Linked DNA regions of Homo sapiens. The protein of the gene in region 2 purifies or fractionates together with the protein of the main gene of each other region. This does not show direct contact. Each region holds a gene or a part of one and is shown on either strand. Other genes may lie near its edges.

What was found.
Region 1: the proteins of KATNA1 (region 2) and KATNIP purify together in Homo sapiens (tandem affinity purification; one large-scale study listed by IntAct). This does not show direct contact.
Region 3: the proteins of KATNA1 (region 2) and LDLRAD4 purify together in Homo sapiens (affinity purification with mass spectrometry; one large-scale study listed by BioGRID and IntAct). This does not show direct contact.
Region 4: the proteins of KATNA1 (region 2) and SLC30A7 purify together in Homo sapiens (affinity purification with mass spectrometry; one large-scale study listed by BioGRID and IntAct). This does not show direct contact.
Region 5: the proteins of KATNA1 (region 2) and ENOPH1 purify together in Homo sapiens (affinity purification with mass spectrometry; one large-scale study listed by BioGRID and IntAct). This does not show direct contact.
Region 6: the proteins of KATNA1 (region 2) and CCDC88C purify together in Homo sapiens (affinity purification with mass spectrometry; one large-scale study listed by BioGRID and IntAct). This does not show direct contact.
Region 7: the proteins of KATNA1 (region 2) and ARHGAP39 purify together in Homo sapiens (affinity purification with mass spectrometry; one large-scale study listed by BioGRID and IntAct). This does not show direct contact.

What each region holds. Positions count from the first base shown.
Region 1 is NC_000016.10:27,737,959-27,742,408, forward strand, and holds part of KATNIP (katanin-interacting protein), read left to right. Parts: intron 1-2,082; coding exon 2,083-2,962; intron 2,963-4,450. UniProt on the Homo sapiens protein: May influence the stability of microtubules (MT), possibly through interaction with the MT-severing katanin complex.
Region 2 is NC_000006.12:149,617,124-149,621,573, forward strand, and holds part of KATNA1 (katanin p60 ATPase-containing subunit A1), read right to left. Parts: intron 1-4,450. UniProt on the Homo sapiens protein: Catalytic subunit of a complex which severs microtubules in an ATP-dependent manner. Microtubule severing may promote rapid reorganization of cellular microtubule arrays and the release of microtubules from the centrosome following nucleation.
Region 3 is NC_000018.10:13,650,297-13,653,492, forward strand, and holds the end of LDLRAD4 (low-density lipoprotein receptor class A domain-containing protein 4 isoform alpha 1), read left to right. Parts: 3' UTR 1-2,455; downstream 2,456-3,196. UniProt on the Homo sapiens protein: Functions as a negative regulator of TGF-beta signaling and thereby probably plays a role in cell proliferation, differentiation, apoptosis, motility, extracellular matrix production and immunosuppression.
Region 4 is NC_000001.11:100,978,483-100,982,516, forward strand, and holds the end of SLC30A7 (zinc transporter 7), read left to right. Parts: 3' UTR 1-3,275; downstream 3,276-4,034. UniProt on the Homo sapiens protein: Zinc ion transporter mediating zinc entry from the cytosol into the lumen of organelles along the secretory pathway.
Region 5 is NC_000004.12:82,436,841-82,441,290, forward strand, and holds part of ENOPH1 (enolase-phosphatase E1), read left to right. Parts: intron 1-4,450. UniProt on the Homo sapiens protein: Bifunctional enzyme that catalyzes the enolization of 2,3-diketo-5-methylthiopentyl-1-phosphate (DK-MTP-1-P) into the intermediate 2-hydroxy-3-keto-5-methylthiopentenyl-1-phosphate (HK-MTPenyl-1-P), which is then dephosphorylated to form the acireductone 1,2-dihydroxy-3-keto-5-methylthiopentene (DHK-MTPene).
Region 6 is NC_000014.9:91,410,919-91,415,368, forward strand, and holds part of CCDC88C (protein Daple), read right to left. Parts: intron 1-4,450. UniProt on the Homo sapiens protein: Required for activation of guanine nucleotide-binding proteins (G-proteins) during non-canonical Wnt signaling. Binds to ligand-activated Wnt receptor FZD7, displacing DVL1 from the FZD7 receptor and leading to inhibition of canonical Wnt signaling.
Region 7 is NC_000008.11:144,682,315-144,687,546, forward strand, and holds the start of ARHGAP39 (rho GTPase-activating protein 39), read right to left. Parts: upstream 3,533-5,232; 5' UTR 3,372-3,532; intron 1-3,371.

The DNA.
Region 1 (4,450 bases), on a different chromosome or scaffold from region 2:
AGGCAGAAGCCCAACGGGAGGAGGAACAAGGGGTAGTGGGAGGAGGAGCCCACGGGGACAGTGACACTCAGAGATTCACTGACGGGGTGACGGACAGATCATGCGGGGGGCCCTGCAATGGAATATTCCTTAGCAGTAGAAAGGAAAGGAACTATCAGTTCCCATAACACAGGTGAATCTCAGAGCAGTTATGGTGACTGAAAGAGCCGAGCAAAAAAGACTACATGCAACATGATTCCTTTATGTAAACATTCCAGAAAGGACGATCAGTATATAGGGAGGGACCATAAGTGGGTGGTTGCCTGGAGCCAGGGAAGGAGGAAGGGGAGACAGGGGTTACCAAGGGGCACGAGGAAACCTTAGGGTGATAGGTACGTTTGTTCTCTTGAGTGTGATGGCTTCATTGGCGTAGACACATGTTAAAACTGATCAAGCTGTACCCGTTAAATATGCACAGTTTATTGTATGGGGTGTGTATTCTATTCCCCGATAAAGCTGGAAAAAGAGTTTTGCTGTAAAGAGGATGACACAAGTGAAACAGTAGCAGGAGATGTGATTTTATCTTAAGCATGGAAGGAAGAGAGTTGAACCTGCGTGACATAGGGGCATTTAGGCTGGCAGTGAGAGAGGAGAGCGAGGTGGGGACCATTTGTGAAGGTTACTGTATGTCATGTGGAGAGCTTTGGAATTTATCCCATCATCGGCATGGTTCTGCACCCCGTCGTGTGAAGAAATCATCCGGAGAACTTGTTCTGAGTCCAGAAGTTACCTACAGGCTGCCTTGAGGCAGTGGTCCTCACACGGCATCCTCCTGGCTCCCTTCCAACTGCAGCTGCCGTGAACATGGGACAGTCCCCGCATGTGGACAGTGCCCTGCCTCAGGTGCTCGTGGGGTGCTCTGCCGTGGGAGCACACTCAGCTCGTGCATGTGTTGGGGCATCAGTGCCCTGAGGGCAGCCTTCAACAAGCAGTGGATAAATGTCCCAGTCTTGGAGAGACATTTGCGACATGCATTTAAGCAGAAGACTCCCATGATCTGATTTCAGTTAAAAAAAAAAAAACTCACTGCTGCATAGAAAATGAAGTGTGAGTGCAGGGATTTGGAGGAGACAACGCAGAGTGGAAGCAGAGAGACCAATTAGGAGGCGGCAGTGGTGTCTCTGGTAGAGACCCTGGTGGCCTGGGCAAGGAAGGCAGCAGCACATTCCAGGTAAAGAGGTCAGACCCAGGAAGTGTTCTGGAGAGAGAGGCGAGGGACAGCTGGCGGATTGGATGGGCAAGTGAGAAAGAGAGGGATCAAGGGGGCCACGAGGTTTTTGGCCACTGCTTCAATGATGGAGCCATTTTTAAGATAGGTGAAGACTAGGGTTGGGGAAAGTGAGATCTTGGAGTGCCGCAGAGGGCCCCCGTGGGAAGGAGCACCAGTTGGCCACAGCAGTGACCAGCTCAAAAAAACTGGGTTTTTCCTTTTTCCTGCCCTATCTTGCTTTCCCCATTTCCTCTTGGAATCACCTGCCAAATACTCGACTTGCACCCGAGTCCTTGTCTCAGCCTCTGCTTTTACGGTCTCCCAATTATGATGCCCACGGAGGCCAGGAAAGCTGTTTTATAAGCACTCCAGGCTTTTCGACGCAGATGGTCTCAGGAACTGGACTTTAAAGAACACTGCTATAGGCTGTGAAAAAACATGAAGGATTTCACACAGGGGAATGACTGGACAGATTTGCTCTGGTAGGAAATGAACTCTGGTGGCAATGTGAAGTCCAAGTTAAAGTAGCAAGAGACAGGAAGCAGGGAGACCCATTAGTAGGCTATTACGAATGTCCCGACAGGAGGTAATGATGACGAAGGCAGCGATTGAGGCCGTCTCTTTGTGAAAGTCCTTTGATTTATAGAGTATGTAGCGGTTCCCACAGAAATGAGACCAAGCCTAGTTTCACACCCCCAGCACTGTGGTTTTCAAAAGCTTGCATTTCTAGCATTTCACATTTTCTTTTCTTTTTTTGGTATCTTCGACTTCCAAAATTTCATACATCAGTCTGATGCTATGCATCTTCACTTTGTTAAATCTTATGGTTTCAGGATCTTGACATTGGTGCCAAGAACGTGAAGCTTTACGTCAACAGAAACCTCATCTTCAATGGCAAGTTAGACAAAGGAGATAGGGAGGCCCCAGCTGACCACAGCATCCTGGTTGACCAGAAGAACGAGAAGAGCGAGCAACTAGAGGAGGCCATGAACGCTCACTCGGAAGAAAGCAAAGGCACCCATGAGATGGCTGGTGCCAGCGGGGACAAGGAGCTTGGTCTCGGTTGCTCACCGCCAGCTGAAACATTAGCGGATGCAAAGCTTTCTTCACAAGGAAATGTGTCTGGCAAAAGAAAGAATTCTACTAATTGCAGGAAAGACAGTTTGTCCCAGTTAGAGGAATATTTGAGACTGTCGGCAGTCCCCACTTCGATGGGTGACATGCCCAGTGCTCCTGCCACTTCCCCACCTGTGAAGTGCCCTCCTGTCCATGAGGAGCCCTCTCTCATCCAACAACTGGAAAACCTCATGGGCAGAAAAATCTGTGAGCCACCCGGGAAAACCCCATCCTGGTTACAACCTTCTCCCACCGGCAAGGACAGGAAGCAGGGAGGCAGGAAGCCAAAACCCCTCTGGCTTAGTCCCGAGAAGCCCCTGGCCTGGAAGGGCAGGCTCCCATCAGACGATGTCATCGGTGAGGGTCCTGGAGAGACCGAGGCCAGGGATAAAGGCCTACGGCATGAGCCAGGGTGGGGGACCAGCCGGAGTGTCAACACCAAGGAGAGACCCCAGAGGGCAACCACCAAAGTCCACAGTGATGACTCAGACATCTTTAACCAGCCCCCCAACAGAGAGCGCCCTGCTAGTGGGAGGAGGGGCTCAAGGAAGGATGCTGGCAGCAGTAGTCATGGGGACGACCAGCCAGCCAGCAGAGGTAAGCTCCAAAGAGCAGCCCGACTTGGGCATCATCATCCCAGCCCCTCTAATTGGCATGAAGCCAGTTAGCTCCTGGACCTCAGTTTCCTTATCTGCACAACAAGATGGTTGTTCTCAACTAAGGGTCACAAAATCACTGTCTCAGGGGCCAAAGAGATGCATACATGAGTGAAATGGGCAAGACACATTTTGCATGGTAAATTCATAGATGTATTTGTCATTGCCACCAAGGTATGTCCCTTTGCCCATTTTTCTTGCAACACATGGCTTTTCCAAGCCATTTTCCAAAAGACTTTGTTCTCCTGCCTTTCATAGAGACATCGGTCTCTAGTCACTTCACTTTATCCTTAACTGTACTGTTAGAAAAATAGCTGGGTACAGTGGCCAGGCCTGTAATCCCAGCACTTTGGGAGGCTTAGGTAGGAGGATCGCTTGAGCCAAGGAGGTCGAGGCTACGGTGAGCCATGATTGCGCCACTGCACTCCAGCCTGGGTGACACAGCGAGACTCTGTCTCAAAGAAAAAAAAGAAAAAATAATAACACAAGTGTGATGATGCATAGCAATTGACACTTGCCTGAGTGTTGGAAGTGGCACAGGGAATAGTGAGGACTTTGGCAATTTGGAGACCATAAGCCCACCCACAGGGCGGCTGCCACTCCACTCAGGTTTCTAATAAGCATTTAGGAGTGCAAGGCCAGGCCGGGCGCAATGGCTCACACCTGTAATCCCAGCACTTTGGGAGGCCGAGGCGGGCAGATAACCTGAGGCCAGGAGTTCGAGACCAGCCTGGCCAACATGGTAAAACCCTGACTCTACTAAAAATACAAAAATTAGCCAGGCATGTGGTGCGTTCCTGTAATCCCAGCTACTTGGGAGGCTGAGGCAGGAGGATCACTTGAACCTAGGAGGTGGAGGCTACAGTGATCCGAAATTGTGCCACTGCACTCCAGCCTGGGCAAGAGAGTGAGACTCCGTCTCAAAAAAAAATAATGAATGCAAGGCCACTGTACCAGACCTCCTCTTTACTTTTTTCAAGAGAAACCAGAAATGTTTCTTATTTTTTGACTTTGGCAACTGATTGAGATTATTTTTAAACTACTGTATATGTCAAAAAAAAAAAAAAAAGGCACATCTGCTGGCAGGACTCACCCTGAGAGCTTTGTGAACTTTGCAGTAGATGATTAGATGGTCTTCAAGGGCATTCCTGATTATGAAAGGAGAGCCCATCAAGGCAGGGAGTCTCAATATTTGCACTCAGACTTGGCTCCTGGAGAGTACGGATAGCAGCTAGGAGTCAAACCATTGAATCCAAACTCAGCCGCTTACAGACCTGGGACCTCTAGCCAGGCACACAACTCTCTGGGCCTCAGTGTTTTCATCTGTAAAATGGTTATGACTTCCCCACCCAGTGTGGCAAGGAAAGAATGAGATGATGGCTTCCAAATAGCAACACTGAGCCTGTGACATGATGAGTGCTCGGTGAGT
Region 2 (4,450 bases):
AATGGTGGTTACCAAGGTCTGGGATGAAGGGGAGAATGATAAGAATGATGACTTTAATGGGTGTAGTGTTTCAGTTCTGAAAAATAAATAATGTTCTGTGGATAGACAGTAGTGATGATTCCACAACTAGTGGAACATGTGAATGTACTACTTAATACCACTGAACTGCACACTTGAAATATTTTAAATGGTAAATTTTATGTTATGTATATTTTGCCACAACTTTTAAAAAATAAATAATTTTTAAAACTCAGTTGAATTTCTATAGCTTAACAATTAACATACAGACTGAAATTAAAAATACATCACTGTTTACAATCATTACAAAAATGAAATACTTAGGTATAAAAGCTAACAAGACATATATATGACATGTGCTAAAAACTATAAAACACTGGCCAGGCGCAGTGGCTCACGCCTGTAATCCCAACACTTTGGGAGGCCGAGGCGGGCGGATCACGAGGTCAAGAGATCGAGACTATCCTGATCAACATGGTGAAACCCTGTCTCCACTACAAATACAAAATATTGCCAGACGAGGTGGCTCACGCCTGTAATCCCAGCACTTTGGGAGGCCGAGGCAGGTGGATCACCTAAGGTCAGGAGTTCGAAACCAGCCTGACCAATATGGTGAAACCCCGTCTCTACTAAAAAACACAAAAATTAGCTGGGCATGGTGGCCTGCGCCTGTAGTCTCAGCTACTTGGGAGTCTGAGGCAGGAGAATCGCTTGAACCTGAGAGGTGGAGGTTGCAGTGAGCCAAGATCGTGCCACTGCACTCCAGCCAGGGTGACAGAGTGAAACTCTTGTCTCCAAAAATAAATAAATAAATAAATAAATAAATAATAAAATAAATAAATAAATAAATATATATATATAAAATTAGCTGGGCATGGTGGCACATGCCTGTAGTCCCAGCTACTCGGCAGGCTGAGGCAGGAGGATCGCTTGAACCTGGGAGGCGGAGGTTGCAGTGAGCTGAGATCGCACCACTGCACTCCAGCCTGGTGACAGAGCAAGACTCCATCTCAGAAAAAAAAAAAAAAGGAAAAAGAAAGAAAGAAAAAAAATTGGTTGGGCACAGTGGCTCACTCCTGTAATCCCAGCACTTTGGGAGGTTGAGACGGGCGGATCACCTGAGGTCAGGAGTTCAAGACCAGCCTGGCCAACATGGTGAAACCCCGTCTCTACTAAAAATAGAAAAATTAGCCGGGCATGGTAGTGGGCACCTATAACTCCAGCTACTCAGGAGGCTGAGCAGAGACAATTGCTTGAATCCGGGAGGTGGAGGTTGCAGTGAGCCGAGATCCTGCCACTGCACTCCAGACTGGGTGATAGAGCGAGACTTCGTCTCAAAAAAAAAATAAAAAAAAGAAATAGAAAAGGAGAACCACAAAAGACTCCAAAGAGATCCTGAGCAAAAGGAACAAAGTTGGAGACATCACACTACTTGACCCTAAACTGCAATGCTCTAGTAACCAAAACAGCATGGTACTGGCATAAAAACAGACATACAGACCAATGGAACAGAATAGAGAATCCGGAAATCCATGTATTTACAGTCAACTGATTTTCAACAAAAGCACCAAGAACATACACTGGAGCAAGTGCAGTGTTTTTAATAAGTGGTGCTGAGAAAACTAGATATCCATTTGCAGAAATAAGGAGCTAGACCCCCTAACTCTCACCATATATAAAACCAACTCAAAATAAATTAAAGATATAAACGTTTACACCTGAAACTATGAAATTATTAGAAGATGATGTAGGAGAAATGCTTCAGGACATTGGTCTGGGCCAAGATTTTAGGAAGACCTCAAAAGCACAGGCAACAAAAGCAAAACTAAACAAATGTGATTATATAAAACTAAAATGCTTCTGCACAGTAAAGGCAACAATTAAAAGAATAAAGAGGCAACCTGTAGAATGGGAGAAAATATTTGCAAACTATTCATCTGACAAGGGATTAATATCCAGAATATACAAAGAACTCAAACAAGAGCAAAAAACCCCCCACAAATAATCCAATTAAAAAATGGGTAAATGAATTGGAATAGACATCTCTCAAAAGAAGACATATAAATGGTCAAGAGGCATATGAAAAAAAAATCCTCAATGTCACTAATCATCAGGGAATTGCAAATCAAAACCACCATGAGATACCATCTTGCCCTAATTAGGATGGGTGTAAGCAAAAAGACAAAAACTGCTGGGCGTGGTGGCTCACACCTGTAATCACAGCACTCTGGGAGGCTGAGGCAGGTGGACTGCCTGAGCTCAGGGGTTCGAGACCAGACTGGGCAACATGGTGAAACCCCGTCTCTACTAAAATACAAAAAATTAGCTAGGCGTGGTAGCGTGTGCCTGTAGTTGCAGCTACTCAGGAGGCTGAGGCATGAGAACTGCTTGAACCTGAGAGGCGGAGGTTGTAGTTAGCCAAGATGATGCCACTGCACTCCAGCCTGGGCAACAGAGTGAGACTGTCTCCACAAAAAAAAAAAAGACAAAAACTAACAAATGCTGGTGAGGATTTAGAGAAAGAATTCATATACAAAGTTCTTGGAAATGTAAGATGATATAGCCACTATGAACAGTATGGAGGTTCCTCATGGGAGGAATAGGATTAATGAACATAGGAGTGCAGATATGTCTGACATATTCATTTCCCTTCCTTTGGATATACCCAGAATCAGGATTGCTAGATTATATGGTAGTTCTAGTTTTTGTTTTTTAAGGAACCGCCATACTATTATAAACACTATTCACAATAGCCAAGACATGGAATCAACCTAAGTTCCTATCGACAGATGAATGAATAAAGAAACTGTGGCATGCATATACATACATACATACATACATATATATGGTGAAATACTACGTAACCACAAAAAAGAATGAAATTCTGTCATTCATGGCAACATGGATGAGTTTGGAGGATATCATGTTCAGAGAAATAAGGCAGGCACAGAAAGATAAATAACACATGTTCTCACTCATGACGAAGCTAAAAAAGTTGATCTCATAGACGTACAGAGTACAATAATGGTTACTAGAGGCTGGGATGGGTAGGGGAAGGTGGGTGTATCAGACATTGGTTAACAAATACAAAAGTACAGCCAGATAGGTGGAATGAATTCTAGTGTTCTATAGTGCTATAGGGTGACTGTAATGACTATTATTTTTTAATTTTTTTGAGACAGAGTCTCACTTTGTCTCCCAGGCTGGAGTGCAGTGGCGCGATCTTGGCTCACTCCGCCTCCCAGGCTCAAGCAATCCTCCTGCATCAACCTCCCAAGTAGCTGGGATTACAGGTGTGTGCCACCACCCCGGCTAATTTTTTTTGTATTTTTAGTAGAGACAGTGTTTCACCATGCTGGCCAGGCTGGTCTCGAACTCCTGACCTCAAGTGATCTGCCCGCCTTGGCCTCCCAAAGTGATGGGATTACAGGAGTGAGCCAACATGCCCAGCCAGGTGACTGTAATTAAAAACAACTTATGGTACATTTTCAAATAACTAGAAGAACAGATTTTGAATATTCCCAACACAAAGAAATGATAAATGTTTGAGGTGATGGATATGTTAATTACTCTGATTTGATCATTACCCATTGTATATGTGTATTGAATTATCACAGTGTACCCCATAAATATGTATGATTATTATGTGTCAAATTAAAAATAACAAACAAAAATTTTTAAAAACCAAAGCAACATCTACACTCAGCTTTTATAATTAATATAGAAGCAACACTGGCATTAGAAAATTATGATTTTGCAGTCAGTGCAGAAATAGCTGATTCAGACAAGAATCACTGGGTGCTAAAACTAGCAGATGAGATATTGATGAGAAACAGAGTATTTACATAGTCTCAAAGTACTTCCCACAAATTATTACAAGGGTCAAATGGTAAGTTTATTGTGGAGAGACCAAGCAGACACCACCTAACCAAGCGATCCAACTTATCACCAGTAATAGGACAAACAGAAATCCTATGCCTTCTTTTTTTTTTTTTTTTTTGAGATGGAGTCTCACTCAGTCTCCCAGGCTGGAGTGCAGTGGCGCGATCTTAGGTCACTGCAAGCTCCACCTCCCGGGTTCAAGCCATTGTCCTGCCTCAGCCTCCCCAGTAGCTGGGACTACAGGCGCCTGCCACCTCGCCTGGCTAATTTTTTTGTATTTTTAGTAGAGACGGGGATTCACCGTGTTAGCCAGGATGGTCTCGATCTCCTGACCTCGTGATCCGCCCAACTCGGCCTCCCAAAGTGCTGGGATTACAGGCGTGAGCCACCGCGCCCGGCCCTGTGCCTTCTTATATGATACACTGAGAGAAAAAAACCATCATACCAATGGTATGCCTGCCAAAAATGAATAATTTTTTTTTTTTTTGAGACTGAGTCTCGCTCTGTTGGTCAGGCTAGACTGCAGTGGTGTGATCTCAGCTCACTGCAA
Region 3 (3,196 bases), on a different chromosome or scaffold from region 2:
TGCTGTCTGAGTGTAGGAATGTCTTGCTAAGAAAGCAATGTCTTCCTTCATCCTTTTCTTTCTTCCCTCTGCGTGTCCTTGTTTTTGTGTAATGCGGGAGAGGGTTAGAGCTATAGAGATTATATATACACTATCCGTGCACATTATATATATGTAGATATACCCCTATCATGTCAGAGATCTGCATGTCAGTTTTTCAGCAACTAAGGTGCCTCATGTTCTGAGTTCAGCAGATATAGGAACCAAGCCGCCCCCTCCTGCACTTGATGCTCCCACCTTTGTTGTGCCTCACTTAAAATGGTGCTTTTTTCAGTTGTCTGTCTTTTCTTATGTTTTTATTTGTAAGGTGCTGTATATAAGTTGAATATATTATGCACATATCCTACCCAATGGGTAGAACAAAAAGTTGTTAATACTGTAATATAATGTATAGATGATACCAATTTTAACAGAAATGGCATAGAATTTGTGAATGCCTATGTGCTTTGTCCTCTTTTGTAAGGAAATTTGCAAATGGATGCATACAGATTAAAGTCTATGTAGTTTATTTTCCTATTAAATATCAATATTATAACACAAGAGAAAGAAGTGTGAACAAACAAGCAACAGTTTATGACCAGCGTATATATAGCAATGGAAAGTTGCATCTTTGCTGTGAAAACACTTTAAAGAAAATACTTTTTAAAAAATCCCACAGCTTTTTGGTTGCCACTAGACGCTTCTTATTTTAATCATTTTAGTAATGCTCAGCTGGACCAGTGTTAGTTATATTTGAGTCAGAAAAATGTTGTTTTTCAACTTGCTTTATAATCTCCTGCATCTATCTCCTGCTGTAGCATCACGAAGGTGTCAGGCAACAGTGAAAAGTGCACATTTTTGTTGTTGCAGAAACTGTGTCAGAGGAATAAGTAAATCAGCCTGCAGCAGAAGACTTTGTTCAGCTCCAGAGGCATCTGTGACCGTCTGTGTCCAAGTCTCTCTGTGCCTTTTTCTTTTACAAACTGAAGCTGTGGAGCCAATGAAGTAACAGTAGAGATTGTAGGGAAAGAATACCTCAGGAAAAACAAATACACTTACAAGAAGACCCTGTTCTTAGAAAATGTGTTTAGTTATGGGTTAGCACTAGAAGAGACTTGGCTGTCAGCCAGCCAAGTGAAGGACCTCTCATCCATTCCCATTCATGTCCCATCATAATACGGACCCAAAAAGCAAACTCGGTTTTGCCATCAGTTAGAAATTACGTTTTGGATTGTATATTGTTACATCTCTCTTCCGGCTTAGTTTTTAGTGTCTGATTGTGACCTCTGCATTTATCTTCAAATACCCTAATTTTAAAACAAAAGAACAAGAAAAGTTTATAACACCATGTTCACTAAAACCACGGTTGAATCTTGGGTGTGGGCATCCTTTCGAGTGTTGTCCATAAGAGCAGTTCGTGGAATTTTGCCCATCTGACCCATATTATCAGCTTATTCTGCCACCAGAGTAGAGTCTAATAAATTCCAAAGTTTTTATTTGCTCCATGGTGTATGTTCTGACTTTGAAAATGTCAGATTCTATAATCATACCCCTAACATCCAGGAAACAAATGACAGATTATCTTTAAACTGAAATTGACTCTACAATGCAACCCTTAATGCTGAATGGATTAAAAAAGTCAGCCCTTTTAGTATCTGTTTGAAAGGGCCGTAAAAAGTTGACACTTTTGTTGTTGTGGATCCTGCGTGTCTAGACCCACGTGTTGTTTCCATCGTATACTGTAGGGTGCACCCCTTGGGATTCATCATTAAGAACTGAGGCTCACTGTTGTCAGAAACAAAGCTCCCACCCCCCAGGTTCAACCTTGTGGGAGAACTGTTGAGCATGAGAATGTTCTAGACTCAGAGGTACTAAAATTTGTTACCACATCATTGCTTCCTTTCTACAGGACGAATTGAGGCTTAAACTTTACTGTTAATGATACTGGTTCATTTTAATGTGCTTGTTGGTATGTTGCTATTTTTCATTTCATAGCTTTCAAAAATCATGCTAATTGTATACTTGTCTAGTTTAAGGCTATTTTAAAATATGTACAATACTATTCACAGCATTTAGTTCGTTTAATTTTTATTATAAAGCAATCTACTAAAAAAGTACAACTGTATTTGAACTTTTCAATAGTTGTTTGTGAGCTATGATAATCAAAAGTCATTAAAGTCTTTTTTAACAAACATTCGTGCTTACTTTTCAACATAATTCCCAGTTATATACAGAAAAAGATTTCCACCTGTCACGTATCTGCCTCTTTTACCTGAGCAATGGTGTAGTTCTTAGACCTAAGGTCTGTAATTGCAATACTTTTAAAGAAAGATGTTGCTCTAAGTGCTGTTTGTTAGTTATGAAATCAGATTTTTCTGCTTGTTCTTAATGCTGTGGTCAAACCATAGCACAAAATCATTAAAAATAATCAGCGGCATACATTTGTCCCTTGGGTTTTTGTTTTGTTTTTCTTTGTCTTTCAGCAACAAGGCACATGCATGGGGAAAATGCTGTGTGTTTTAAGACCTGTCTCAAAGAAATACTTCCTGTGGCTCCCTAGCTAAACTTCCCACTCAGCTTGTAGTCACTCTGACTTTTCAAAAAAATCACTACTTCATATTCTACTAGAAGCAATTCTGGTCAGATCATGATTCGTTTCCCAATGCTGGGTTCTACACAGGTCATTCAGACAGTCATCAGGTCCCCTCATGCAAGGAGTCCCCAGAGAAACTGCTCACCCCACCTGAGGCGCCCAGGGAGGACTTTCTAGATGCCTCAAAAAGTCTTTGGGTGGCTGTCACACAAAACCGAAATGCTCAGCCCAAAATATGAACAAGATTCCTAACAATGACAACTATTCCACAATGGAACAGACCCCCTCAGTGTGTGTTTTAAACTCCTTGGCATTGGAGGTCTCCAGTCAGTGATAATGTAACAACAGAGAGGCTCTAAATTTCCTACACCGAGAGACTAGAATAGTATTATCTCTATGCTCTAAATAAGAATATGGGTTCACAGATGATGACTGTGTGTGCATAAAACCCCACACGATCTACCAAACTACTAAAGTGGATTTAGCATGGTTGCAGGATATGCAATTTATTTTTGCATTTCTATGTACTTATAATTAGCAAATGGAAACTGAAATTTTGAAAATACCATTCAAAATGGTATGGGC
Region 4 (4,034 bases), on a different chromosome or scaffold from region 2:
AGAAGCAGTGTAGTTCTACCTCTCATTTTACAGATGAGAAAACCGAAGCCCAGAAAAACTCTCATTTGCTCAAAGTCACAGAGAAAATTAGTGGCAAAGCCAAAAAGATTCAGATCTTCTGACTCGAAGTTGAGAGTTCTTTATACTCTATTATGCTGCCTCTCCAGTGTAATATTTGCCTTTCTGTAAATGGGATTAAATATGATTTGTAAATAAAGGACATCTGACCTCCTTTTTTGGTACATTAAGGCACTTTATAAATGGACTTTTATTGTCTCATTTTTCGTATATAATTATTTCCATCATATTCTTTATGGAAGATGCAATTAATTTTAACTTTTTTACTCTTATAAAACCAGTTCCTGACATTTTAAAAAACAATATCTGTAAAATGGATCCTTTTATGAGTGAATTTTTCTGCTAATTGCCCAAGGCTAAATCCAATTTAAGGATTGCTTAGTTTCTTTATTTTGTTTATGGTCTCTGAACTGGTATTTTTTTATAAACCAGGCTAATTCACAGGTCATACCATTTCATTCTTGTCGTGTTGGCTTCCAGTCACTGGAAAAGCTTTTGCATTTTAAAGATTTTTAGAGCCATGCAAAACTGGGCATTAAATGTTGCATAAAGCAAATCTTTTAAGTAAGGTAAAATGTTGAAGTCTTAACCAGAATTCCTACAACTAATTACTAAAACTGCTATTTCTAACTCTTCATGAAAGCATTACCTTTGGAAAGTTAAACTTTTTTTTTCCTTTCATCACCGTCTTTGAAACAAATTATTTTCCAATTCATAAGAACTTTGGTAAAAAAAAAAATAAAAGGAAATTATATGTTTTTCTTTGGACATTCATTGGAAGGCTTGTTGAAGACATGATCCCCCAGAAGCCTTAGTGACCCAGATCTCAACCAGAGACTCAAGATAGCCTCAAATACAGTGAAAGATTATGTATCCAAAAAAAAAAAAAAAAAAAAAAGAAAAGGAGCAGGGAAGGACAGTTCTAGTTAAAGCCAAATGGATGTGAGTCTGACAAGGGTGTCTTTGATTTATATTTCCTAACTGCAAATTACACAGAAAGTGAGAATGGGGAATAACTTTTATTAAGTATTTATGTGCCAGGCGGTTAGTGTGGCCTTCATGTTATTACATTTAATCCTCAAATTTCTACAAAGGAATAATTTTGCATGATTTTATGATTGACGGAGCATTTTCAAATCTCCTCTAATTCTCATAACATCTCTGTGAGGAAGGAATTTTTATCCTTATTTTACAGATGAGGAAGCTGTTTGGAGATAATTTAAGTGACTTGCCTGGGGAATCTAGCCAGTAGTAGAGTACTGATTAATCAGGTGCTGACATCTGCTCTGCTTTGTGTATGTAATTCAGCAGTGCTTCAAAGATCCAAGAAGCTGTAGCAGATCTCAATACACTCTCCTATAAAATTAGTGAATAATCACCATGACAAAATTGGTATGGCGGAACAGTCATTATACATTATTTAGACTCATTCCTTCTTCCAGTGCCCTTATGATTATTTCCTACCTTTACCATTGATCTTAAACTGTGCAGGCTAAAAAGAGGAACCAGAACTCCCTTAAGCACTTTTAAGACTATTTAAAAAATAAAGTTTTGTTGGCATTGAAGAGTAAGCTGCTTAAGGGACTGAATGAAAAGATAGTACCCTTTGTGGCTGTATGAAGAGAGAAACTGAATTTCTATCCAAGAGACCTTAATTTAGTTTATTAGGGAATTATCTTCCCCAAAAGTACAAGTAATTTTGCACTGCAGGAGAAGGATAAGTAGATTTGATTTACATCACATTTTATACACACCTTTCAAAAGGAAGAAATCTGTTTCATAAATAGTAGTAATCTATGCTTAAACTTAACATTTAATGTTGACTTCTTACAACAGCCTTGAAAATTATTTGTAATTTTGATCATGATGTTGGAAAGCTTGTAATAAAGAATATCTTTCTCTTCTGCATCCTTTTATCCTCAAACTTAGCATGGATTCACATGCTGAGTAAATGTTTGGTTAACTAGTGAACATTTTAGATAGTTGTGTCAAAAATAAGGGTTAGGGATAGGTAAAACCAGTAATTTACTGTTTTTTACAGAAGACATCTCAGCATTTCTTTGGCATTTTTGCACAAATAAATGACTATATATTCACCTTGGCCATTTTTTTTTTTAAGTAGCCCTATGAGCTGCTCATTCTTTTTCATATACAGTGGAAGTATACAGATGTTATCCATTTTACAAATTGTTGGATCGGAATTTGACAGAATTGGGACTGTGGAACCTGGGTCACTTGAATTTTCTATATTTTGTATGGCCAAATCAGGAACCAGACAGTCTCCATAGTCTCCTTTGTTTTTATGGAAAATTGCCATATTCACATATTTCATTTATCCTAATGTATTGTCATCCAAAATGAAAGAGGTCTTTCTTGAAGGTGCTTTAAAGACATCACTACATGTATTCAATTACTGATTTAAATATTCCCAGAATTATTTTTTACCTTTCTCTTTTTCCTCTCAAACACAAAATTTTAGTAGTACCTCCCTCTATTTCTTCACTGATTTTTCATCTGTTTTCATTGTTATTTCCACTATAGAACTTCTACTTTATACTAGCGGGGAAAATTTTTTTATTTAGAATTTTAATATTTGAATTTTGTTTATGTATCACATACTGTGCTACAGTTAGCCTCAATGAAGATTCTATTTTGAACTAGACATCCTGTCAATAGTTTGTCAAGTAACTTCATTGCTTCCTTTGATAGCAATTCAGTGAAATTTTTTCCCAAGTGATATTTTCCCCCAACTTTTGTGAGTTTGATAAATAGGATGAGTCTTTTATATTGGAAATACTGTGAATGGAAAATTGCCAAATCCCTTCTTAGTATATTTTAAGCACCCTACAACACTTTACCTCCCTGCCTTTAGTGGTATTTAAACATATGGCCAAGTTAGTATTTGGGTTTGATTCCTTTGGTGAAGATTAAGGCATCAAAACATTTCTTAAAATGTTTGAGTACAAGGCTAAGTTATAATGTCAACTTTCAAAGACTATGTTGTGATTCGGTTTGAATATGCTGAAGTGAGCAATTATGATTTGCCCAAGTGCAATACAACAAATCTATAATGTATATTTCACATTTTCTACTTGAACACATTCATGTATATATTTTGTTAAACTTCATATGTATTTAAAAAGAATCATGAACTGTATCAAAATTCTTTCAATAAAATTTCTATTTAAAAATCTCTACCTGAATTGTGTCTTATCAGTTTGACGAACTGAAACAAACACTGTGAATCTTACAGGTATTGGAATAGATACTAGAGGACTTAAGGAATGAAAGGCAAAGAATGATTCTCAGAGCCAAGAAACAGCAGAACTTACTAGGAGAGAAGAGATGCTAGGAGGTTGGAAGTATCTTTACATTGTGAACAGCCTCATTGTGGCTCTTAGTCAGCATCTGACCTCATAAACATGTCTCGAAGTATTTACTTCCAGATATTTCCATCACTCCCAAGTTGTTCTCTCATCTCAGTTTCTATGGATGACTTTGTCTTATATGACGTGAAGACCAAAACATCTGATGTGAGCCTCCATTATCCTTCCAAATTTTTCCCTCTGATTAGATGCAATTCTTTTTTAAAATAACTTCTTCCACAGTATCCCATGCACCACTCATGTCACCTTCCTTCTCAAAGGTATTCTTACCAAAGCAGCTTCTTTACTATCATCAATCTCTGCCATACTTCAAGGCTTTATCCTCAGCATGTCTGCTGTCAGATTCCTTGTATGTGGTCTACATTTGCTGCTTCTACCTCCTTTCTAACCATTTCCATAGCTCCTAGTAGTATAGCTTCACTCCTCCCTATTTCGTAGAAGTTGCTTCAAGGCCATCAGTGGCTTCTCGTCACATTCATGGCAGAACTACCAGCATATCAAATTCAAAATTGAAGAAAACAAATCTTTCCCATTCAATTCTCAACTACCAATTTGTCGGAATTCTTCATA
Region 5 (4,450 bases), on a different chromosome or scaffold from region 2:
GTTCCCTAAAGCTGGGACTGTCATGTTCATCCTGCTCTCACACAGAATATGTCATCGTCGTCATCATCATCATCATCATCCTATCGTTGTTGGAACCCAAAGAATCTGCATTAAGTAAATAATTCAGTATGGGCATGGTGGCTCACCCCTGTAATCCGAACACTTTGGGAGGCAAAGGTTGGAGGATCACTTGAGGCTAGGAGTTTCAGACCAGCCTGGGCAACATAGCAAGACCCTGTCTTAAAAAAAAATTATAAAAAAAGAAAGCACCTCTCACTTTGATTTCTGGTTCCTTATTTTTCTAGAACCTTCAGTATTGTGGCATTAGCATAATCTTTCCAGCCTAATCAATCCTTCTTTCCTTTCCCTCACATTTAATTGAATACCTGTCATGTTCCAGGATATGGTAGGGATCCAGAGTCCTTAAGACCCAGCTGTCACCCTCAGGTTCCTCAGGGAACCTAGAAAGGAAGACAGTTACATAAATAGGTCGCCTTTGCATAATCAAAGTCCTCTGTAGTCTCTCACTGGCTGTGAGATGAGAGTTCAACAAATTGGGTTTTCCAACTTTCTATCCCTCTCTTTACACTTTACATAGCTGAACATGCACATTCCAATCATGCCCTTTCTTGCTGCCACCATTCTTCCAGCTTGGAATGTCATACCTTTTCGTCTCCAAGTGTGGGTCCCATGCACTCATTAACTTAAAAAAAAATTACTTATTGTGCTAAGCTGTGGGAATATGGAAGTAAGAGCTACCTCTTCTTGTAAAGGACCTATTTAAGCAGGAATTTCAAAGTCCTTTCTCTTCGTCCTCTGAACTCATTGTCAGTACCATGTGTAGTATTTGCTACTGGAGCCAATAGCTGACTTGTGATGTTGGATGTGTGTCCTCTTTTTCAAGCTGTGTGGAAGGCTCCTCAAGGGCAGAGACCAGAGCCTCACACAGTGCTTACACATCAGGCATGCTGTAACATGCTGGGTGATGGTGATATGCATTCCGGAATGGGTGTGGGAGGGACTGGGATTCAGTTTCTTCCATACTCTGCAATCCTTGCTATTTCAGATTTCCTCAAGGTGGTACTCTATTATATTTGAACAATTTAACTGAAAGTGTTTCTAGAGTGGCATTAGAATTCATTGACTCAACATTTCCAAAACCTACAAGTTATAGAGGATGAAACCAGCTGATAATGGAAATTAAATGTCATAAAAGAGAAAATTTTATTAACAAAATTAAGATAAAAAGTGAAATATGTTATTTATAGAAACTTGCATCTGTTAATGTAAGACTAGAGGAAAGGTTTTTCTACCCCCCCAAATATTCTTCCTAGAAAATTAGTTCGCCCTGATTATAAAATTGCAGACAAAGAAGAGTATGATATAGAGAGTGAAAGCCCTGATATGCTCCTGCCATCCAGAGGTGACCATTAAGAGTTTGGTGAATATTCCTTCTGTTTTTTTCCCTAGGTACACAGTAAAGTCATACAGATCTTTGAAAGATATGTAGTCAGACTTATTGAGTAAAAGGGGTTGGGCATGGTGGCTCACACCTGTAATCCCAGCACTTTGGAAGGCCATGGCAAGGAGATTACTTGAGTCCAGGAGTTCAAGACCAGCCTGGGCAACATAGGGAGACCCCATCTCTACAAAAAATAAAAAATTGGCTGGACATGGTGATGTGCACCTGTAATCCCAGCTACTCAGGAGGCTGAGGTGGGAGGATCACTTGAGCCCAGGAGGTAGAGACTGTGGTGAGGTGTGATTGTGCCACTGCACTGCATGCAGCCTGGGTGACAGAGCTGGAATGCAGTGGCGTGATCGAAAAAATAACAATTTTTAAAAGGGGCACTGATTTTAAGCTATAACCCCTATATTTTAAATACATAGGCTGGATTTTATCTTGCTCATACAGACTTTTAAAATGATACCCTGTGTTTAGCCCTGAAAAGTGCTTACTTCTTCTTTGTCTGATGGGTCTTAAAATTTTCTATCCTTGCAGCTTACCCTGTGTTACCACTCCACTAAAGAAAACAAAGTATTCTTTTTTACAATAAAAGGTTATTTTTATATGAAACTTTGAATTTCACATTTATCAACTCATTTGATTTTCAAAACTGGTTTTGTTGGAGGTGCAGGTCAGAAGAGGAGTGGAAACCAACCTGCCCTAATCCTATTGCACCCATTTTCCCATCAGCTCACTAAAGAGTCGTGTGGAAAGTTGGTAGCTTTATCCTCAGAGGCCCTCCTGGATCCTCTCTGGACCTTTCCCAGGTGATACCATTTCAGGAAAATGGGTTTCTTTTCAAAGACAGAATGTCTTTAGGACAGAAAGGGGTTGTTTGCCTTCTAGGTATGTGCATGAGGGGTTCATTTCTTAGCTTGATTTTCTTTCCAGTGATTCATGATGTGACCTTCTAACAAGTTCCTTTTCTTAAGTCTAAAAAGTGTGGACCTGGTACCCCTTTACTGAGTAAAGAGAAACTAAGGCATGCGGTTTGGAAACTAATGGTAATTTCAGCATTGAGACCTTGGTGGGACTTTGGAGCTCACAATCAGACCAGTGTTTGACAGTTAAGCTTGTGTATACTTACTCCAGCTCTCTCTGGACTGGTCTTGTATGGGTCCAAGTCGTTGTAAGTTCAGGAAGGTAATTAGATCCCTTTGATGGGGGTAAAGAGTGGGATCTTTACCCCCGATCTGATACTGGGGAGATTCCAGGCATCTGACTCTATAAACTCAAAAAGAAAGACCTGATTGGTAAACTATAATCTCAGTTTGTTAATTTGTACTTAACCTTTATGTGCCTCTGAAAAATGGAGGAAGTAGTAGCACCAATTTCACAGGGTTATTATGAAGATTAAAATGACATTATCAGTAAGTTGAGTAAATTTTGAGTGCTTGGTGGTGGCAGTGGTGAGAAGTGATTGGATCTGAATATATTTTGAAGGTAGAGCTGATGGGATTTGCTGATGGATTGGTTGGATGTGGAGTTTGAGAGAAAGAGGAGTCAAAGATGACTCTAAGGTTTTTGGCCTGAGCATCTGGAAGGATGGTTCTGTCATTTACTGTGATGTGGAGATGTAGGGGGAGGAGGAGGATTAAGGGATGGAATCAAGAGTTTGGTTTCAGATGTGTTTAGTTTGAGATACTGAATAGACATGCAAGTGGGGATATTGGGTAGGCATTTGGAAAAGGTCCAAGCTAAAGGTAAGGATTTGGGGATCATTAGTATAAATGGTATTTAAAGTCATGGAATTAGGTAAGATCACAAAGGAGTGATTATAGATAGAAAAGAGAAGTGTTTGTCATAGTAAGTGCTCAGTAAATGTTGGCAGTTACTCCCATTACTATAACTACTTGAATTATTATTGCTGATACTTTATAGGAAATGTTACAGAACTACTGGGTGAACCATAATCTCTCATTTTCTTTGTATGAAACCTCTTTGGGGAATCAAAGCTATATTAGAAATTTCCATAGAGAATATGCTGTCAAGATCCAGGGAGTTAGATGATCCTGGTGAGTAGTGCTCCTTGAAGTCATTCACCCGTGAGAGCTGGATGGCTTCAGGTGTTGGGATTTGATAGGCCTGGGTTTGAGTCCTGGCTTTACTCTGCACCAGCAGCGAAACCTCTTTGAACCTCAGTGTCTTCCTCTATGAAAGAAGGCTTACTTTGCAGGGATGTTAGGCAGATTCAAGGAGATGAATGTGAATGCCTTCCTTTCCCCTCCACTGTTAAGGACTAGGACTCTGGGCCAGTCAAGTTCCCTTTCTGGAACTCATTGGAGATACTCTGTTTCTTTTGTGCTGCTTCTTAAAACCTTACTCCAATTACTAGCCCTCTTGTACTGATAACAATCCCTTGTTCAGTGTGATTCATTGCACTTAATTAGATAACAGTGTATCTTTTGTTAATTATAATTTAATCTCCTTAATGGGGCTATCTTTTGTCTTATCAGCACCACATTGATTAATTCATTTTGAATGCACATGTGAAATCTGATGTTCATTCCTAAGCTTTCAGTTTTCAACCTACACCCCTTGTATGGGTCCAGCCCTGTTTACTCCCATGAAGACGAGGACAGTAGGATTTTAATTCCTGAGACCATGTGGCCCCATGTGGCAGCCAGAACACAGAAACTTCTTGATAGCTCCTACTGTGGTCTTCAGGAAGCCTTTTTGAAGAGCAATTCTAATACCACAACTGCTGAAACTATCTGGCAGATGGCATGGACCACTCCAAAAAGTAGCAATTCTCGTTGTTAGAAGTATTTAAACAAAGCTTGGTGTATTAGTCTGTTCTCATGCTGCTAATAAAGACATACCTGAGACTGAGTAGTTGATAAAGGAAAGAGGTATAATGGACTTACAGTTCCACATGGCTGGGGAGGCCTCACAATCATGGTGGAAGAAGAAGGAAGAGCAAAGGGATATTTTATATGGTGG
Region 6 (4,450 bases), on a different chromosome or scaffold from region 2:
CACGTGCAAAGGCATAGCATACACTCAGGGTCGGGAACCTGGGAGTCCCCTCACATCACAGCATAGAAGCCTCTGACCATCCCTGCTATTGTTCTCCCCAGTTCTTGCAAGAAATAGCTCACTGAAACAACTCTAAAAGAACCCTGACATTTACTGTATGAGTAATTAAGCTACTTACCGTGATTATTACGACTCCCTCCTTTAACTAAGCCTCTCTGGGTAGAGAGCTATCAGGACACTAATCAAAACAAAAGCCTCAACTACAGTTAAGGCAGGCACATCTCAATCTCCACTCTGCCCAGCACCCCCGTAACTCCCACCTTTCCATGCTGTACAAAATGGGAATCAAGAGACATGGGTTCTAGCCCAGGTCCCAAGCCCAGCCAAAGCTCACTGGGCTTCAGTGTTCTCATCTGCAAAATGGCTACAGGATCCTTCCGGCCTTCAAAGTCTATATGGTTCCATGAAGCCTACATCTGCAGTAGCAAACGTGGACTGTACTTGCTTCTGTACCACAGGAAGATGTTATTATAACCGCTAAACAACTGCACTTCCCCAAAAGTTGTCATTCAGAACAACAATCATCTTTATATGATAGTCCTAAAACTTAAAAGGCCAACACTCTAGTATCAGGATCTCAGAGGACACGACATAAATATGGTAGCTGGTCGGAACTTGGAGAGTTCCAAGAGTTCCAAGTCTAAAGTGTGGGCCCCCAGGGATTCCTTTTCATAAAAACTTCCAACTAGAAAAAAAGAAACTGGCCAAGCACGATGGCTCATGCCTGTAACCCCAGCACTTTGGGAGGCCGAGGTGAGAGGATCACTTGAGGTCAGGAGTTCGAGACCAGCCTGGCCAACATGGTGAAACCCTGTCTCCACTAAAAATACAAAAATTAGCCAGACATGGTGGCATGCGCCTGTAATCCTAGCTAATCGGGAGGCTGAGGCAGGAGAATCACCTGAACCTGGGAGGCAGAGGTTGCAATGAGCAGAGATCAAGCCACTACACTCCAGCCTGTGCAACAGAGTGAGACTCCATCTCAAAAAAAAAAAAAAAGGAAGAAGAAAGATAACCAATTCTTGCTAGAATTTTAAAAAGAGTTATAATTTAGGCTTACAGTAACCTTGCCCCCCTCCTTTGGGAAAGCCAGCCCCCAACTTTTGGTCATATTCCAAAAACTTCCTAAATTTAAAGCTAAATCAAGAAACTATGTATTGACACAGAGAGATATCCCTAATTTATCACAGGTTAAAAAACATGCTAAATGTTTTTATATATGTTTAATGTATTTTTATACAAATATGGACCCATGCTAAAAAACAATAGCAAGAGTCCATATTTGTATAAAAATATTAATACATTAAGGACACGTATTAATATATATCATAGATAACATTCGGAAGGCACTAGAATATTGACATTGCTACCTCCACATGGTAAAATCACAGGCAAGTTTTATTTTGCTCATCTGTATATATTCCTATTCTCCTAAGATGAACATAGTTTGTGTATTTTTTTCTTTTTTTTTTTTTGAGATGGAGTCTGGCTCTGTTGCCCAGGCTGGGTGCAGTGGCACAATCTTGGCTCACTGCAAGCTCTGCCTCCCGGGTTCATGCCATTCTCCCGCCTCAGCCTCCTCAGTAGCTGGGACTACAGGCGCCCGCCACCACGCCTGGCTAATTTTTTTGTATTTTTAGTAGAGACGGGGTTTCACTGTGTTAGCCAGGATGGTCTCGATCTCCTGACCTTGTGATCCGCCCACCTCAGCCTCCCAAAGTGCTGGCATTACAGGCGTGAGCCACCGTGCCCAGCCTGTTTGTATAATTTTTAAGGACTCAAAGCCCCCATGTGTCATATACTGCAGCCAAAAGATGGAAATTACTTAAGTTCATAGGTAAAAATTGTTTTTTCCCAAGATTTTTGCGCCAATACAAATTCATTCAACCAACAAGTAAAATTTCCCCTTTTATCCTAAGCTTCTACATCTGCAAAAGGGAAACATAAACTCTCCTTCAAGTGCACTGGGGTAAAAGTTATCCTTCAAATGCTTTTTGGGAGGTAAAGAAACTCTCCTATTTCCCCGAGGATGTTTCTAACCTATGAATAATTAACACAGTATCCTGAATTTTGCAGCTAGCACCAGGGGTCACAAGCAGCCTGAACAAATATGGTTGAACTTAAAGGGCACAAGCTCTCAGCCCTAGTACCAAGTTCCAACTTTAGCCACTGCGTCAAACCGGATGGTTTACTCTCACAAGTAGAGATGTACAGCACTAAGGGCATGGGTACACGTACGTATGTCCACACACAAACTCAGATCTGGGCCTCATCTGCACAATGATAGACATATGTTAGGCTTGTTCTATATACATAGTTTTATTTAAATCTCCCCCAAATTGGTAAAATACCATCCCCTTATTACAGATCAGGAAATCAAGGCTTAGAGAGTTTCAGTCATTTGCCCAACATAATAACACTAGGAAGTGGCAGAGTGGGGATTTGAACTTGTCTGCCTGATGCTAGGGTTAAGGCTCTTAAATAATTTTCCTACAAGAGAATGAAAAACGTGTCCAAAGTTAACCAGAGCAAACTTTGTTTTCTCTTGGGTGCTGGTAGGTACCCAAGACACTGTGTTGACAGAGGGGCTATTGAGCAGGCATTCCCAGGCCTCTCCATCCAGGCCACTCAAAGCCTCAGTTTCATTCATGAATTCTCCTAGCCCTGGGCCTCCCCAGAAAGCTGAACCTGTGGGGCTTCCCTGCTTCCAGGTGCTGATGTCACCAGGAGACCAGGGCCGAGAGACTACTAACAGCCTTCTCCGGTTGCCGGAGACAATGGCCAGGTGCAGTCACGTGACCCCCAGCCAACCTCCACAAGGCTCCCAGGTGTTAGGTAACAGCCTCTTATCTGAGCTCTGTTAGCAGTACTGCTCAACGCGATTTCTTCAGGTCCTACAAACTTGGGGTGAAGGAATCAAAACAGGCAAATAGCACAGTCTAGGAGCTACTGGTATGGGAGATGAGGCAGAACAGCCTTACCCCTTACCTGCTGGCTAGTGACATGTTGCCATTTGGTAGAAGTGAAAACAGAGGCTTAAGTGCAGTACAGTCTAAATGCGGGGCTAGGACTTGGGTCCCAGGGTCCAATGTTGCCCTAGACCTCATTGGTAGAGGGCTAAGGGCTGAGAACTGTGGGGTAATCCAAGGATCGAAGAATGTGGGGGAAAAGGTAGGCCACACAAAAAAAGAACTTTTAGTTGGTGCCTCAAATCCTTTCTGGATTAAGATGGCACCTACATAGGCAAATAGCTAAATGTTAACACAAGGTTTCATTCTGTCCTCACAACCATCTCTTAAGGAAGGTACTTTACGTCCCATTTTACAGATGAGGAAACTAAGGCACTGAGCGACATGCCCAGTGTCACACTGCTGGTAAAAGGGAGGCCAAGGGTTTGAATCCCAGCTGGCTATGTAGGCTGTCCGATACAGGCCAGGGTTCATTGTTTAGTTGAGGTAATTTTACATAGCATGAAATGCATAAAGTTATAATTTGAGGAGTTTTGGAAAATGAAACATACTCCAGCCACTCTGCAGGACATTTCAACTACCCTGAAAAGGTTCCCCCGGGTCCTTTCCAGTCAATCCTCACCACTTCCAGACACAAAAACACTATTCTGACTTCTATCACCTGGAACTGGGTGATTCTGATGACCCATGCAGGAAACCATGCCCACCCGCTCTCTCTTCTCTTTCCTCATTCTGGAAAGCCAGCCATTCAGCCTCCCCACGCTCCATTCCTCTGTGCCCAACTCATCCTGAGGGACCCAGAAGCACTTCTTGAAGTCTTAAGAGCTACAATTTACCAGTTCCCACTTCTGGAATGATTACCTTGGCATATCACAGAGAGAACATCTAAAATTGCCCAGGGAAGGGGAGAAACCCTCCCACCCCACACCACCCCGGCCGAATTTAGCCATGGGCCAAATGAGAACAAGTGATGAGCTGGCGTTTCTCAAAGGAACGGTCCAACAGGCTTTCCTGATTTACAAGCAAGTGGGAAACGCTTCAGGAATTCCAAAGGTCAGGGAAGAAAGAGAAACAGTCCCAGTGCTTTTGTTCCCCCCTCTGCCTGGGTGTAGGAGCTGAATGAAAAGGCTGGGGATACTGCTGGTTTTTTTAATTAAACAGTCTTGGGCTTGGGTAAGGACAGGTTGAAGTTTCACCGGTCATTGCGCCAATGGAATCCAGTAATTTTCAGGGTCTAACAGAATGAGGGGAGAGTGGCCAGAACTCGAATATGCCACGAGACAGCTTCCGGAAAACTCAGTTTCAACAAAGTTATCTAAGAAGTGCTGTCAAAGCTGGCAACAGATTTATGTTTTTCAATCTAATCAGACACTGAAGACTGGTAAGATTGGTAGTGACTTTTTTTCCTACACCCACAGCTG
Region 7 (5,232 bases), on a different chromosome or scaffold from region 2:
TGAGGCGGGTGGATCACGAGGTCAGGAGATCGAGACCATCTTGGCTAACATGGTGAAACCCTGTTTCTACTAAAAATACAAAAAATTAGCCAGGCGTGGTGGCAGGTGCCTGTAGTCCCAGCTACTCGGGAGGCTGAGGCAGGAGAATGGTGTGAACCCAGGAGGCGGAGCTTGCAGTGAGCCGAGATCACGCCACTGCACTCCAGCCTGGGCAACAGAGCAAGACTCTGTCTCAAAAAAAAAAAAAAAAAAAAAATTCTTACTTCTCACAACAGCTTAGCAGGCAGAATGTTACACTGCTGGTGATTCCACCTTCTCACTTTCTGTTATGTCCTCCCTGTCACTTAACGTTTATTTTAATAAATCACCGTTTCTGTTGCAAGGATAATACTGAGAAGTATAACAACAATGGCAGGCTGGGCACAGTGACTCATGCCTGTAATCCCAATACTTTGGGAAGCCAAGGCAAGTGGATCACTTGAGCTCAGGAGTTTGAGACCAATCTGGGTGACATGGCAAAACACATCTCTACAAACAAAACCGAACAAAAAAATTAGCCAGGTGTGGTGACACACACCTGTAGTCCCAGCTACTTGGGAGGCTAAGGTGGGAGGATGCCTTGAGCACAGGAGGTCAAGGCTGCAGTGAGCCATGATCGCACCACTGCACTCCAGCCTGGCCAGCAGAGTGAGACCCTGTCTCAAAAACAAGCAAAAACTGGCTGGGCGCGGTGGCTCACACCTGTAATCCCAGCACTTTGGGAGGCCGAGGCGGGCGGATCATGAGGTCAGGAGATCGAGACTATCCTGGCTAACACAGTAAAACCCCGTCTCTACTAAAAATACAAAAAATTAGCCAGGCGTGGTGACAGGAGCCTGTAGTCCCAGCTACTCGGGAGGCTGAGGCAGGAGAATGGCATGAACCCAGGAGGCAGAGCTTGCAGTGAGCCAAGATAGTGCCACTGCACTCTAGCCTGGGCGACAGAGCGAGACTCTGTCTCAAAAATTAAAAATAAAAATAAAATAAAATAAAATATTCTTTTTTTTTTTTTGAGACAGAGTCTCGCTCTGTCACCCAGGCTGGAGTGCAGTGGCACAATCTTGGCTCACTGCAAGCTCCGCCTCCTGGGTTCAAGCGATTCTCTGTCTCAGCCTCCCCAGTAGCTAGGACTACAGGCGTGAGCCACCACACCCAGCTAATTTTTGTATTTTTAGTAGAGACGGGGTTTCACCATGTTGGTTAGGCTGATCTTGAACTCCTGACCTCAAGCGATCTGCTCGCCCCAGCTTCCCAAAGTGCTGGCATTACAGGTGTGAGCCACCGCACCTGGCCATTTTTCTCTAAGAACGTCTTAAAACAATCTTATATAATAATTCATCTAAGTATGTGAGGCTTGTCTCTCTTTTACCTTTATAAACATGTGTTCATCCAAATATGACCTCAGCTTTCTTGTGTGAGAAACCAGCGCCACAGACTTCCAGCTTAATGTAAACTTCCAGTTTACATTACATTGGCAGTGCTGGAGAAACTGAAGACCCACTGACCCAGCACATGCACCCCGGAAGCACCAGATCTTGGCAGTAATAACCATTCCTAACTTTCTAAAACACAGTGTGCCACGAACAAAGTGTTTCACAAGTCTTAATTTACTGAGTCCTCACAACAACCCTATGAGGCCAATATTATTAGTGTTCCCATTTTACAGATGAGAAGCCAAAGGCACAGAGACCTTGCCGAAGACCACAAAGCCAGTAAACAGAAGAGTCGCGACTCAGAGGCGGGCAGCCTGGCTCCAGAACCCGCCCTCCTGTCCACTCTGCTCCCCTGCCTCTCAGGAAGACAGCTGGCTACACCAAGTGCAGGGAGCGAGGCGCCACCCCCATTCATTCACTCCAAGCATTTATGGCTACAGAGCCTGCGCCCAGGGCGGTTTATGGAATGAGTCTCCTCGATTTACAGCCACACCTCCTATCAAATCGCCTTTCCCTCCCCCGGCGCGAGAATCGCACCTTGCTCCTTGTGGATCGGGCGCCGCCGACGGAACCACCTGCTGTCTATAGAGGGCACCTAGGACGCAGCGTCCAATTCCCCTCACTGGCTTCAAAAGACAAATCTCCGTATTGTTGTACCAGGAGGCACGAGAAGCCTCACCACTGTAGGTTTTTCAGCAGAGGTCACTGGAGGTCTGGTTAAACCCGTACAGCACTGAGGGGGAGGGGGCCCGGCTGCGTTTCCGAAGCTGCGCAGCGCCCACAGCAGCTGCTGGTGGGAAGCGGCTCGGAACACACCCACAGCTGCCAAGGAGCCGGCTGCACGTTTTAAAATAAAAAACGTCCTGGGCCCCAAAATGCACAGCCCGCCTCTCTCGCCGCCCTGGGCACGGAACGCCGCCTCCACCCACAGCACTCCAGCAACTGGGAAGCAACCGGGAAGCAACCGAGGGAATTCCAGCTCGGGGGGCAACCGGGAGGGGAAGGCTCCGAGCGCCGGAGCCCCAGCCCGCGCCTGCCGCAGAGGCGAGGCCGCAGAGCCCACCCGCAGGCGGCCATGACCCCACCTGGAGACGCCCATGTCCGCTCCCTGCGCCCCGGGGACAAAGCCCGAGGCTGCACCGCAGCGCACCGCAGCCCTGCACCCGGGCCGCCCTTCAGGACGCGGGCACCAGACCCGACCGGCGGGCATCCACCTTGTCCCCACTCCGACGGCGCCCGGGAATGCGGCCGGTGCCCCGAGCTCAGGCTGGGCACACGTGCACCCACACCCACCACGGGCGGGGTCCCCTCACACCCCCCTCGGGCAGGGGCACACTCACACCCATCTAGGGCCGGGCACACTCACACCTCCCTCGGGCAGGAGCACACTCACACCCCCCTGGGGCCGGACACACCCACACTCCCCTCGGGCCGGGCACACTCATACCCACCGTGGACAGGGGCACACTCACACTCACTCTGGACAGGGGCACACCCACACCCACATTGGGGCCGGGCACACTCACACCCACCTAGGGCAGGGACACAACTCACTCTGGACAGGGTACAGTCACACCCACTTCGGGCCGGGCACACGCGAACTCACCCACCCTCACACTCCCAGCCCGGCCCGTCGGCGCGCACCCGGGCCCCGCGCGGCCTCGGCCCCTCGAGCCTCCGCGCCCCCCGCCCGGCCGGGCCCCGCACACCCACGCCCCCTCCCTCCACGGCCCAGTCACAGCCCCTCCCGCCGCTGCAGTCGCCGCGGGCCTGGATTCCTTGCGCTGCCGGGCCTGGAGCCTCCGCCGAGGCTGGGCCAGGACCACGGGGACCGCAGCGCCGGCCCCTCCGCCATCTTCTTGGCCCGCGCCGCCCACCGCCCGTTGCCCGCGCTCTCACCGGCCGGCTGCGCGCGGGCCGCGCCGCCACAGTCCCTCATCCCGGCCCGCGCGACGCGCGTGAGCCAGCCGCCGCTCCCCGGCCTCTCTGCTGCTCCGCCGCTGCTGCCGCGGCAGCCCGTGCTGTCGGCGTCCTCCGCCGCCGCCGCCGGCCCAGTGCGCGGCGGCCGCGCGTCCTCCCGTCACCAAGCGCAACCCCCCGCCTCCGGCTCCGCCCCCGCGGCGGTCACTACCCGCCGCCAGGGGGCACTGCCTCGCGAGGCCGCATCACGCATGCGCTGGCGCGCGGCATGCCGGGAGCCGGAGTCCCGCGGAGGGCGCGCGCGGCATGCTGGGAGCCGCCTGGCCCCGCCCCGTCGCCGCGCCAGAGGCCTCCCGCGCGGACCTACCCTGTGAGTTAGCGGTGTCTTCCCGTCTCTTTCGGTGCAGAGCAGTTACCATCTGACACGTCTCGGTGTGGTTTGGTGTAATTTTGCCCTCTCAAACCACGTTGGGCTTCCCGAGTCTGAGATTTCACTTTTCTTCGACTCTAGAAATACAGCCATTCTTCTCAAAACGTGGGCTGCCCTGTTCCTCAGTCCTTCTTGTGGCGGGCTCGTGTCTCTTCACCTCCTGTTATTCTCACCTTTTTAGTCCTGTCACTTTTACTCGGTAATTCACTCAGCTGCAGCTCGACTAGTGCTCTATTCGGCGTTTTCTAATCTGCGTTCAGCCTGGTTTTCTAGATTCTCTTAGTGCCAGGTGCGTTTCTGGAAATTGAATCTGACTGGCATTTCTGGAGAAACGGAGGCTAAACAGCCTGAAGCTTCGATAGTAGAAGACAGGGGCGCACACCCTTCAGTCCTGGACATTCCCTGGGTCCTCAACTGTGAGAAGCCGCAAAGGGCTGAAAGGCCCCCGTCAAAAGTCATCCGTGGAGCTCCACCTCCTGCCCTGCAGCTCAGTCGCCTTGCAGGGACTCTCCCGCCTCAGGAGATCTCCCGTCGGGCTGTCTCGCCGCCCGCGCTTCCCTGTTGGGCCGTCGTCACACTTCACTCTTCACTCTTATACACAGGGCTCTGCTTTTTCGCCTCCCGCTCCCTCTCCACTGTATTCACTTAGAAAACCCAACTGGGCGAGCCCAACCCTTCTCCTCCATGACTGCTGAAGAAAATCACACATCCAGGCTGACTGCCTTCACCTTAAACTTGTGACAACACACTGGCGGCGAGCACTTCCCACCCCCGTGACCACACACTGGCGGCGACCATTTCCCACCCCTGTGACCACGCACTGGCGGCGAGCACTTCCCACCCCCGTGACCACACACTGGCGGCGACCATTTCCCACCCCCGTGACCACGCACTGGCGGCGAGCACTTCCCACCCCCGTGACCACGCACTGGCGGCGAGCACTTCCCACCCCGTGACCACACACTGGCGGCGACCATTTCCCACCCCCGTGACCACGCACTGGCGGCGAGCATTTCCCACCCCCGTGACCACACACTGGCGGCGAGCACTTCCCACCCCCGTGACCACACACTGGCGGCGACCATTTCCCACCCCCGTGACCACACACTGGCGGTGAGCACTTCCCACCCCGTGACCACGCACTGGCGGCGAGCACTTCCCACCCCGTGACCACGCACTGGCGGCGAGCACTTCCCACCCCTGTGACCACGCACTGGCGGCGAGCATTTCCCACCCCTGTGACCACGCACTGGCGGCGAGCACTTCCCACCCCGTGACCACACACTGGCGGTGAGCATTTCCCACCCCGTGACCACACACTGGCGGTGAGCACTTCCCACCCCTGTGACCACACACTGGCGGTGAGCACTTCCCACCCCGTGACCACACACTGGCGGTGAGCACTTCCCA